Linked DNA regions of Homo sapiens. The protein of the gene in region 3 interacts with the protein of the main gene of each other region in a pairwise test. Each region holds a gene or a part of one and is shown on either strand. Other genes may lie near its edges.

Region 1 (3,648 bases), on a different chromosome or scaffold from region 3:
CCCAGCCCTACTCTCCTGCTTAGGCCTAGAGAGGTCGAGCTGGAGGCCCACAGGCCATGGATGCTCACTAACAGACATGACTGATGGCCTGCTGTGCCCGTGCCATCCGCAGCGGCCTCAGCCTCAGTGTGTCTTTCCCACTCAGTTCTCTATCGGCAGTGGCCACCACCTGCCCTAGGAGTCTCCCTTCCTATCCGTGCACCTTCCAGCCTGAAAGGGATTTCCAAAGATTTAACTTTGTCACTCTCAGTTTAAAACCTTTTGATGGCTGCCCACGTAAAGCCCACCCTCTTTAGCCTGACAGCCAAACACCTGGCTAATCTGACCCCTGCCACACTCCTGACATTGCGACACTGAACTCATTCAGTGTTCAGGCCCACACAGGGTGTGCCCTCTGCGGATCTCCCTCCCCCTGCCCACTTGGCAACAGCAATCTCATCGTTCAGGACTCAAGTCCATGCTCTGGTGCCTGCAAGGCCTTGCCTGGCCCCTACCCCTTCCTTGCACAGCTGTCCCCTGTGATGCTCCACTGCAAACGCAGCTGGGCCTGTGTGCCAAGCCTTCAGCCCCCAGCACTGGGCTGAGCCCACAGGCATGTCAGTGAGCACCTGGCAGATGAAGATATGCTAGTCTGTGTGTCTGAGCACATCTCTGCACCATGCAGGAGAGCCTGTATCCTGTGTGCCTACCCTGGACCCACTGTTCCTTCCTAAAGAGTCCACTCCTTCCTCCCAGGGTGGATGGACCTGTGGGCGGGTCCCTAAGGAGTGTCCCACAGATGCACTCATCCTTCCCACTTCCACCTGCATTCTGGGTCTGTCCAGAGAGGTAGACCCCCTCCCTGTGAATGTCATGTGGGTGCCATATAAGGGGCCTGCAGGGTCCCCATGTCATTAGAGGGCTGAGTGCTTGGTGGAAACTGTGACCGTTCCTTTCTTCTGTCCTTGCTTGTCTTTCGGGACCTAGTAAACAAGAAAGGTAGGAGTTGTTCCTTCTCTCTTCACACACCTCCCCCTCTACTTCTAATCCTTGGGCCAGCAGGGAGGGATGACGCTTTGACCAGAAGTCCCCTGGCCTATGGCTTTAAGCAGCAAACTGTCCAGTCAGCTCAGCAGGCTCCCTGGTTCAGGACTGAGTCCTCATTGGTGTGAGGAGGCAGTTTCTGTCTCACTCTTGCCAGTTCAACTCTGCAGAGGATGCTTCTTCTCTGGGGCACATACATAATACAGACTGCATTGCTTTCCCTGAGCGTACAGAGCTCACCAGAACCATCACCCGGCTCCCAGTTCTCTGAGAAGTTGCCTAAGTGCTGCGAGAGACAGTCTCGCACAGAGCAAAGAGCAGTCACTGTGTGGAACAGCAGAGAGGCATGTCCTTGTACCCACCTGAGCACACTCACTCAAATTCTTCTTTCCGAAGCACATGCGTCTGCAGACCACAAGTAGCCTCTGGCTATTTGTTGGCAGCTGAATCCTATGGTCTGTCTCTGACCCTGTCCTTGTAGATGGGAAAACTGAGGCCAGTGAGAGAGGACTCTGCCCAGCTAGGGTGACGCCTTTCCCGTCCCTCCCCTGCTGCCCTGGGCATTTACCCTGATACTCTGAGGGCCAAAAAGCTGGGGCCCTGTCTCCTGTGCTGTTTGTGTATTTTATGTGTCATTTGCATGTTTGTTCCCGGTGGTTCCTGCTACTCAGCTGGGTGGCCTTGGAGATAGCAGTCACTGTCCTGCAGTGACCTGCCTTCTATCCAAAGGAGCTGCTCGCCCCTGCAACCCCTTCCTCCCTGCTGCACTGCCCCTCTGCTCACGCCACACTCCTGCTCTCCCTACCCCCTCCCTGCCCTGTGTTCTCTCATGTCAAGGCTGTTCTGGCCCTGGCTCCTCCGCGCTCAGAGATCCTGGGAAGAGGTGGGGCAGTAGGAGGACAGAGCCGTGGACATGGGGGCTCCTTGGCAGCCAGCCATGCCATGTGTCACTGTCTCAGCCTGGACCTCAGGTTCTCACCAGCCTCCCTTCTGTCTCTCTAGGAAAAGGACCCACTCTCCGTCCTCTAAGGATGAGCAGTCGATCGGACTGAAGGACTCCTTGCTGGCCCACTCCTCTGACCCTGTGGAGATGCGGAGGCTCAACTACCAGACCCCAGGTAGGGCACTCCTATGGCCTGTGTGCCCCCAGCCCAGACCTAGCAGGCCTGTGGGTCTGTTCTGCAGGTCTCAGGGTCGCCACTGAAGTTCCTGGGCCGCATGCACTTGTTCCTGCTCCTTTTCTTCCTTTCTGCCCTTCTCCCTGTGCTCATCCACTTTGGTTGGAATGACTGGGGAGCCCCCATATCCTGCAGCTGGACAGGTGCCCCAGGCCAGGACCCTCTTAGGTGGCAAAGCCACTTAGCCACTGCCTTGTCTTCAGTCAAGGCCTCTGAATATGGGCTGAGGACCTCCCAGAGCCCACGTCTCTGCCACAGGGTGGCCAGTGTCTGGCGCACGCTCTGACGCCTCCACATGAAAGAGGGGCATGTTAGCAGTGGGAGATGCCTCACCAGACATCTGTGGGGAGATGAAGTGCCTGCACCTGAGCCTTCCTGGAGGCCGACCCCAGGTTTACCATACCACGTACCTGCCCCTTCTCCTAGCCACTCTCATGGGGCTGTCCACCTCTTCCTTCTACCTGAAATGTTACTCCTCCCAACACCCAGCAGACACAGCTCAGACCTCTCCTCTTGCCCACACCCCCACAGGGTTAGGTGTCTCTTCTTGGCTCCAGGAACCTCCCTCCTTCTTCCTTTTGACGCCTCTCACAGTGAGCTGGGATTACCTCAGTGACAGTCTCTGAGCTCTGTGGTGCCAGGAACTGTGTCTTGTCATCCCCCATCCCTTGTATTCAGCGCACGATGGGTTCTTGTTGAATGCCTGTGAAATGAACACACAGACAAATGAAGGAATGAGTGAACTAATGCATACACACAGGGTTTGTGTATGTATGAGCTGGTTATTCTGCATGTCAAATTACCCCAAAACTTAGTGGCTTAAAACAACAATAATTATGTATTATCTGTCACAGTTTTTGTGAGGCAGGAATTCAGACAGGGGCACAGCAGGAACAGCTTGTCTTTATTCCAGAAAGTCTGGGCCCTCAGCCGGAAGACTTGAAGGCTGGGAGCTAGAGTCATTTAAAGCAGGGGTTGGCAGACTATGGCCCGTGGCCAAGTACAGCCCACCACCTGTTTTTGTAAATAAATTTTTACTGGCTGGGCGTGGTGGCTCATGCCTGTGATCCCAGCACTTTGGGAGGCTGAGCCGGGTGGATCACCTGAGGTCAGGAGTTCGAGACCAGCTAATGAAATCCCATCTCTACTAAAAGTACAAAAATTAGCCAGGTGTGTGGCCCCTGTCATCCCAGCTACTCAGGAGGCTGAGGCAGGAGAATCACTTGAACCCAGGAGGTAGAGGTTGCGTGAGCCAAGATCGTACCATCGCATTCCAGCCTGGGTGACAAGAGCAAAACCCCATCTCAAAAATAAACAAATAAATAAAATTCTACTGGAACAGACACACCCATTTATTTATATGCTACCTACCTATGGTTGCTTTTGCACTGTAAAGGCACCATTAAATAGATGCAGTAGATACCAGATGTCCACAAAGCCTAAACTA
Region 2 (3,550 bases), about 44 Mb from region 3:
CACCCTGTTCCGGCCAGTCTGTGAACTGGAACTGCCGGACAGTCCGGGACTGGCCATCCTAGAGTGCAGAGAGCCCAATCTTGTTATCAGGTCAGCAGCGGCCATGGGGGTTTTTCTCCATCCTCCCTATCTTCACCCCCATTTTTTGTTTGTTTGTTTGTTTTTGAGATGGAGTTTCACTCTTGTCGCCCAGGTTGGAGTGCAATGGCGTGATCTCGGCTCACTGCAACCTCCACCTCCAGTGATTCAAGTAATTCTCCTGCCTCAGCCTCCCGATTAGCTGGGATTACAGGCATGAGCCACCAGGCCCGGCCCTCACCCCCATTTTGTACACTCTCTGCCATTCATTTACCCTGACAACTTACCGTCCTTCACAATCCAATGGTACTGCTTTCCATAAGAGATGCTCCAACCTCATCCTCACCACTTCTTGCCACCCAGCTGTTCCTCTCCCCACATTTCCTGTATGACATCCAGCACCTCCATCCTCCATCCTTTGCCATCCCATAGTGCAACCAGCTCTGCCCTTCCCAGCTCCTATTCACCATGATCCTCTGTCATCTTCCACTCTGTGCCATTTCGGGGCCCTACAGCACAACTCAACTCCATCACTGTCCATAGCTCATCAATGATGACTCATCTTCTACAACCCAATGGTGCCATCATCTTTCATCGTCCACCATCCAACACCATCATCTTCCACCATCCAATAACAGTGCCACTGCTACCACCCACTGCTGGTAACTCACTACCTTCTGCCGTCCCGAGTTCCACCCAACACCATCATCTTCCATCATCCACCACCATCCCCTCTTGGTAACTCATCCTTAACCATTCAGTGATGGCATCTTCCACTGACTGTCTTCATTCCCCACTACTCAACCATTCCTCTTTGCAGTCTCCTTTCCTACCACCCAGTGGTGCCATCCAACCACATCATTCTCTGCCATCTTCCATCCTTCACAACTCAATGGTGCCATTTTCCACCATCCATCACTAACAATTCATCACTCTCCACCATCCAAGGGTACCATCTTCCACTGACATTCTCCATTCCCCATCATCTGCCTTGTTCTAATCCCATCCTCCACCATCAAAATGGTGCCATCCAAAATTGTTATCCTCTGCCACCATTTGCCATCCAATGTACCATCTTTCCCTGATGTTTTACATTTTCTAAAATCTCCTTTCCCAACCCCATCTTCCTCAATCTTGTACCACCCATTGGTTTATACCATTGACTATTGTTTACTGTCCTTTCTTAGTCCTAGTATTTCCCATTGATTTTCTCCACCCCCTGCTGGCCAAACATTTGCCCTTCTCCAATTCTGTCTTCCTCCATCCATCACTGATAAAGCATCACCCTTCACTGACCCAAACTACCACATTCCACTGACATTCTCCATCCTGTTATGCGAATGTTCTTCTCTCCAATTCCAGATTCCACCCCTCCAAGGGCACCATCTTGCACTGCTCACAGCACAATGCCCGGTGATTGCTGTTCATTCAGCAGCCTTCACCATCCTTTGGCATCATCTTGGCCAACATTCCCCATCCTCTATCATCCCCTCACTGCGTTCTCTACCATCGTCGATCTTCCACCACTAACTTTGATCCTTTGTCACCCAACAGGGCCACCTTCCACTATGAGTCTTCATCTGTTGCCACCTAATACCTGGCCTTTCTCCCTCCACCTGACACTGCAGTCCTTCATTGAGCCAACACCATCCATACTCATCTCTCCTCACCCAACGGTGCCAGTCCCCACCATCTGACTCTCCTTGTCCACCGTCTACCACCCCTCACCCTCAATCCCTCAAGTCCCTTTCAGCCCTTTAACATCATCCTCCACAGGTGGCTGCTTCCAGAGGAAAGCCCCATTCACTTCCTTGAATATCATCCCCTGGGGCCATGTTCCCTAGTGAGTGGAGACACTGCAGGGTCAGCACAGAGATAAGACCCTCTCTTCCACCTATGTGGCAGTAGAAGCAAGTGGCCAACTGGTCAGCTGACACTTCTCCTGATTCCCAATGCTTATGCCTAACCCTTGGCCTTTGTATCCATCACCAACCAGGGCAGCCCTTTCCAGATCACTAAGGCTCCAGCCCCTCCCGCCAGTCTGTCTCTTCACTCACCCGGGCATCTGTGACCTTGAACTCTCGCAGGATATACTGAGGCATGTTGTATTCTGCCATCGGATCTACCACAAAGTACTGGTAGCGGGCAGAGCGCTCGGCCGGCCAGTACTGGTGACACTTCTCCTGTGGAGGAGATGGCGGCCGTGGTCAGCGCTGTCTGAGCCACAGTCTGGCCCTCGCCCTTCCCTGCTGTGGCCCCTAGCTCACCCGGCCCATCTCCCGCAGCTTGGTCAGCATCACCACGATCGTCGAATTGTTCTCCCACAGCATGCGCCAGAAGTCTTCCGTGGTCTCCGCCAGCGGCCCCTGTGTCGCGATGTAGGCCTTCTGCTGCCTGCAGGCGTTGGGGGTATGAGCCCAGGGCCGGCAGGGAGACCCGGCGTGGTACTCACCTGATGCTGCCCGGGAGGGTCAGGACCAAGCCAGTGACAGCTACACCTACCACCCCACTGCCTGCCAGGAATGGCTGCTGGGTGCACCACTTCCCCTCCTGGTGATCCCATTTTGCATGTGGGGAAACCACCAGTCTCATGACAAATTCAAATCCCTTGACAAAGCTGCGGGACTATCCACTAACCTCTCCTGATTTCTTCCCTCCATCTCCTTCAAGGGCCACTGCCCTACTTTCAGTTGCTTGCGTGGGCCAAGCTCTCAGCCCCGGGCCTTTGCACATGTGGCACCCTCTGCCAGGAACACCCTCCCCTCCTTTGCCAGGATTTCTCAATCTCAGTGCTATTGACATTTGGCGCTGGATTGTTCTCTGAGACAAGCTGTTCTGTGTACTGTAGGATGCTGAGCAGCATGCCTGGTCCCCACCCAGGCAGTACCAGTAGTACTCATGAAAATAAGAAATATCCTCAGGGTGTCAGAATTACCCCAATTGAGAACCACTGATAGAACAGATGGAATCACATTATGGACAGCAGCCATCAGTTAAACACACACCCAAAGATTCACGGACAGCAGCCATCAGTTAAATATACATCTAAAGATGTGTATTTAAACAGCTCAGGGCTACCAGTATCTCCCCAGCTCTGTCTCCCACAAGACTGGAGGCCTCTTGAGAGTAGAGATGGGCTCCTTCTGGGGCCCTGAGGTGGGAAAGGCATGGCACCTACCTGTAGCCATCAATGAAGCTGGCGTTGATGTAGTCAGAGCCCTCCACACCCCGGATGGGTTGCAGACAGACCCGTGTGCTCTCATAGGGCATGATGTTCACCAGGCGGTTCTTGAACTTGTTACAAGGCAGATTGGCACTGATGAAGCGTGACGTGTGGGCCTTGGAGTTAGCCAGCCGCTGTGGGGAGGAGGAAGCCAGAGGCCACCATCAGGATGAGGAAGGCTATGCTTTCAGCTGGAGCACCAATGGTGGATAGGTAGGTAGGGGCACCCTGCCACCACCTTCTAGTCCC
Region 3 (3,648 bases):
TCAAAACCCTGTCTCTACTAAAAATACAAAAATTAACTGGGCGTGGTGGCGGGCGCCTGTAATCCCAGCTACTCAGGAGGCTGAGACAGGAGAATGGCTTGAACCCGGGAGGCAGGGGTTGCAGTGAGCGGAGATAGCGCCATTGCACTCCAGCCTGGACAACAAGAGCGAAACTCTGTCTCCAAAAAAAAAGGAAAGAAAAGATAAAATAATTAGAAGGCAATAAATGCTATGGGGAAAATTAGAAGGTGCTGATATGCCGGAATGATGGGGAAACTCGTTTAGCTGACAAAGAAAGCTTCTTAGAGGTGGTGACATTTGAGTGGGACAGCAAATGCCGAGGAGAGGGAGAGAGTCAGGGAAGGAGGTGGCCTGGGCCCCTCCTGGAGTACCACAGGGACGGACCACAGGCCAAGTTAGGAGTGGAGGGGAGGCTGAGGGGGGTAAAAGCCAATGAGAAGCAGGGTCGTGGGACAGGGGAGTGAGCAGGCCCAGGATTGGCTAGACTGAGGGCAAGAGGCGGGGCTCTGAGGAAGCGAAGGCTGGAATTGGCCGCCGGACACTCACAGTGCGGGAGGAGGCGGGGGCTGAGGGCGAGGTGAGCGAGACCATCTCCTGGATGGCGAGGCGTAGCTTGAGTCGGTGCAGCGGGTTGCTGATGCCGATCTCGCGCTGGATCTCCGTGTCTGACAGGTTGGCCATGATGGCACCGCTCTTGACATTGGCCCGGCAGGCGGCCACATACCAGGCAGGCATGCCCACCCACAGCTGCAGCGGAGGGACAGAGGGACAGAGGGGACAGAGGGACAGAGGAGGAGAAAATCGGAGAGATGGGGGAACAGGGAGGTGGGGAAAGGCAAGGGGGTGGGGAGCGAAACAGAGACGTGGGAAAGTTCGCAAGGAGAAGAAACAGGACAAGGAAAAGAGACGTGGACGAGATGAGGGAGAGTCCGAGGGAGACAAATAGGGAGAGAAACGGGGGGCGGGGGGCGGGTGGGGGAAGAGGGAGAGGGAGAGAGAAAGAGAGAGAGAGAGAAAGAAATAGAGAGAGAGAAATAGAGGGTGGGGAGAGACAGGAAGCCGGAGACAGGGAGACATCGGCAGGGCGATCGGAGACATGAGGAGAAATATGGGGAATGACAAAAGCGTGGTCAGAGATGGGAATGGTGCCGAAAAATAGAGACAGAGAATCCAGAAAGAGAGAGTAGAGAGAACGACAGGAGACCATGACCCAGGTGGGCAAGGCCAGAGTGGCAGGGGCAGAAGGAGAAGGAGAAAGAAACTGTTTAGGTGAACAGGAAGCCCGAGCCCTCCTGGGTCCTCACCTGCCAGGCCCATGGCCACCCCCACCTCTGGGCTAGAAGCAGGGTGCGCCAGGAGGACCAGGCAGCCCCTACCAGTGGGGCTGTCAGAGGGGTTGGGGACCAACAGTCAGGGCATTTCTGGGCCCCAGTACCTCCAGCCAGGACACCACGGTGGGCCCGTCCCAGGCAGCAAAAGGTAGGCCCTGGCGGCAGGCCTCCTCCAGGAGTTCATGCCTGTAAGGGTGAAGGGGCCAGGATAGAAGCTGTCAGGGATGGAGACCCCCTGCTCTGTGGATGGCCCCCATCAGCACACATACACACACACACACATGCACATACGCACACGCAGCTTTTATGAATGTACAAAACACGGCAGAAGGTCAAAAAATACATGTGAATCTGTAAATCCTCTCCCCCCAACCCCTATCAAAAGAGAGAACAAAATAAGAAAAACAAAAGAAACAAAAAATATAATATAAATGTAAAAAATACAAAAAAAATTTTTAAAAAAAGAAAGAAAAAATAAAAACTCTAGGAGCTCCTGGGTTTCCAGGCAAGCAAGTTCAGGATCACGGACACCTCCTCCCAGCATTGAATTCCCATTTCTGTTCACCACCACCACCGCTGCACACACACACTCACACACCCTCTCACACACACACACACTCATACACACACATACACGCACACACACACCCTCACACACTCTCACATTCACATACACACACACACGCTCACACTCACACACACTCACTTCCTCTTGTTCCTTCGGTCCTTGTCTCCTGGGCCTGTCAGCTTGGCTAGCCCCAGAGGGTCAGTGGCCAGTGTCTCATCTGAGGGTGTTCCAGCTGGAGGCAGGGAGGGGTCGAAATTTGGAAAATCTCAAGGGGGAGGCAGAATCTTTCATGCTGGAGGTGATGAGGAAAATGCCGGAAAGGCAGAGGCCCTGAGGGAGTAGTGAGTGAGGGCACATCGAGGAAGTGATAAAGGCAGACAAGCGCCCATGAATTGGAGTCATCCCCAAAATACGGCTGGATGCACTGGGATGCCCTTGGTAAGGTGGCAGTTGTATGCTGGTAAATGCCTAACAACCGGCTCCTTGGGGAGGCAGAAGGGAATCCCTGATTTGTAGCATTTGCCCATTTCCATGGTGTAAATAATCCCACCATGGCCAATTTCAAGCTACCAGTGTGATGTCAGCCAATTCCTGAAATAGCGGATCTCCTGAGCCAGTGCCAGCGGGCTCCAGCACACCACAGGAAGGTGCCCTGCTTTGAGGATGCCCCACCCTCTTCCTCTGTTTAAAAAATAGGTGGCTGGGCACGGTGGCTCACACCTGTAATCCCAGCACTTTGGGAGGCTGAGGCAGGCAGATCACAAGGTCAGGAGATCAAGACCATCCTGGCTAACACGGTGAAACCCCATCTCTACTGAAAATACAAAAAGTTAGCCGGGCGTGGTGGTGGGCGCCTGTAGTCCCAGCTACTGGGGAGGCTGAGGCAGGAGAATGGCATGAACCTGGGAGGCGGAGCTTGCAGTGAGCCGAGATAGCACCACTGCACTCCAGCCTGGGCGACAGAGCAAGACTCCGTCTCCAAACAAAAAAAAAAAAAAAAAAAAAAAAAAAAGGTAAATGAGTCTGTAATCCCAGCACTTTGGGAGGCCGAGGTGGGTGGATCATCTGAGGTCAGGAGTTCAAGACCAGCCTGGCCAACATGAGGAAACCCTATCTCTACTAAAAATACAAAAAAATTAGCCAGGCATAGTGGCGGGCGCCTATAGTCCCAGCTGCTCAAGAGGCCGAGGCAGGAGAATCGCTTGAACCCAGGAGGTAGAGGTTCCAGTGAGCCAAGATCGTTGCCACTGCACTCCAGCCTGGGTGACAGAGTGAAACTCCATCTCAAAACAACAACAACAAAAACCAAAAAACAACAAAAAAATAAGTAAAGGAAATAAATTCCTTTACCTACCCAGTCACCCAAGCAGGTCCCAGAGTGCCCTTTCCTTTTCCCTCCTCCTCCCGCCTACCTTGGCAAGCTGTGTTCCTTCCAAATTCTAAATAAATCACCAAATGAATGAAGACATGAATGGATGTCAAATGAACATACAAAGAAGAAAGAAAGGGAGGGAGGAAGGGAGGAAGGAACAAAGGAGGGAAGGGTTAGAGTGAGGTACTCACCCAGAGAAGAGCTGTCCCGGCCTGGGGGTCCCATTCGTCCCTTCTCTTTCTTGCCAAAGAGACGGCCTATGGATGACTTGATGCTCTTCTTCTTGGGGGCTTTGTGCAGAGAATCTGGGGTGCCCTCACTGGGAAAGCAGGAGAGAATGAGAGCATATGCTTGCT

What was found.
Region 1: the proteins of PPFIA3 (region 3) and PTPRF interact in a two-hybrid assay, tested with the Homo sapiens proteins (one study listed by BioGRID).
Region 2: the proteins of PPFIA3 (region 3) and PTPRS interact in a two-hybrid assay, tested with the Homo sapiens proteins (one study listed by BioGRID).

The regions. Positions count from the first base shown.
Region 1 is NC_000001.11:43,607,358-43,611,005, forward strand, and holds part of PTPRF (receptor-type tyrosine-protein phosphatase F isoform 1 precursor), read left to right. Parts: intron 1-966; coding exon of another isoform or gene 967-978; intron 979-2,025; coding exon 2,026-2,141; intron 2,142-3,648. UniProt on the Homo sapiens protein: Possible cell adhesion receptor. It possesses an intrinsic protein tyrosine phosphatase activity (PTPase) and dephosphorylates EPHA2 regulating its activity.
Region 2 is NC_000019.10:5,208,334-5,211,883, forward strand, and holds part of PTPRS (receptor-type tyrosine-protein phosphatase S isoform 1 precursor), read right to left. Parts: intron 3,436-3,550; coding exon 3,257-3,435; intron 2,473-3,256; coding exon 2,346-2,472; intron 2,262-2,345; coding exon 2,136-2,261; intron 59-2,135; coding exon 1-58. UniProt on the Homo sapiens protein: Cell surface receptor that binds to glycosaminoglycans, including chondroitin sulfate proteoglycans and heparan sulfate proteoglycan.
Region 3 is NC_000019.10:49,139,924-49,143,571, reverse strand, and holds part of PPFIA3 (liprin-alpha-3), read right to left. Parts: intron 3,612-3,648; coding exon 3,484-3,611; intron 2,153-3,483; coding exon 2,059-2,152; intron 1,539-2,058; coding exon 1,457-1,538; intron 769-1,456; coding exon 568-768; intron 1-567. UniProt on the Homo sapiens protein: May regulate the disassembly of focal adhesions. May localize receptor-like tyrosine phosphatases type 2A at specific sites on the plasma membrane, possibly regulating their interaction with the extracellular environment and their association with substrates.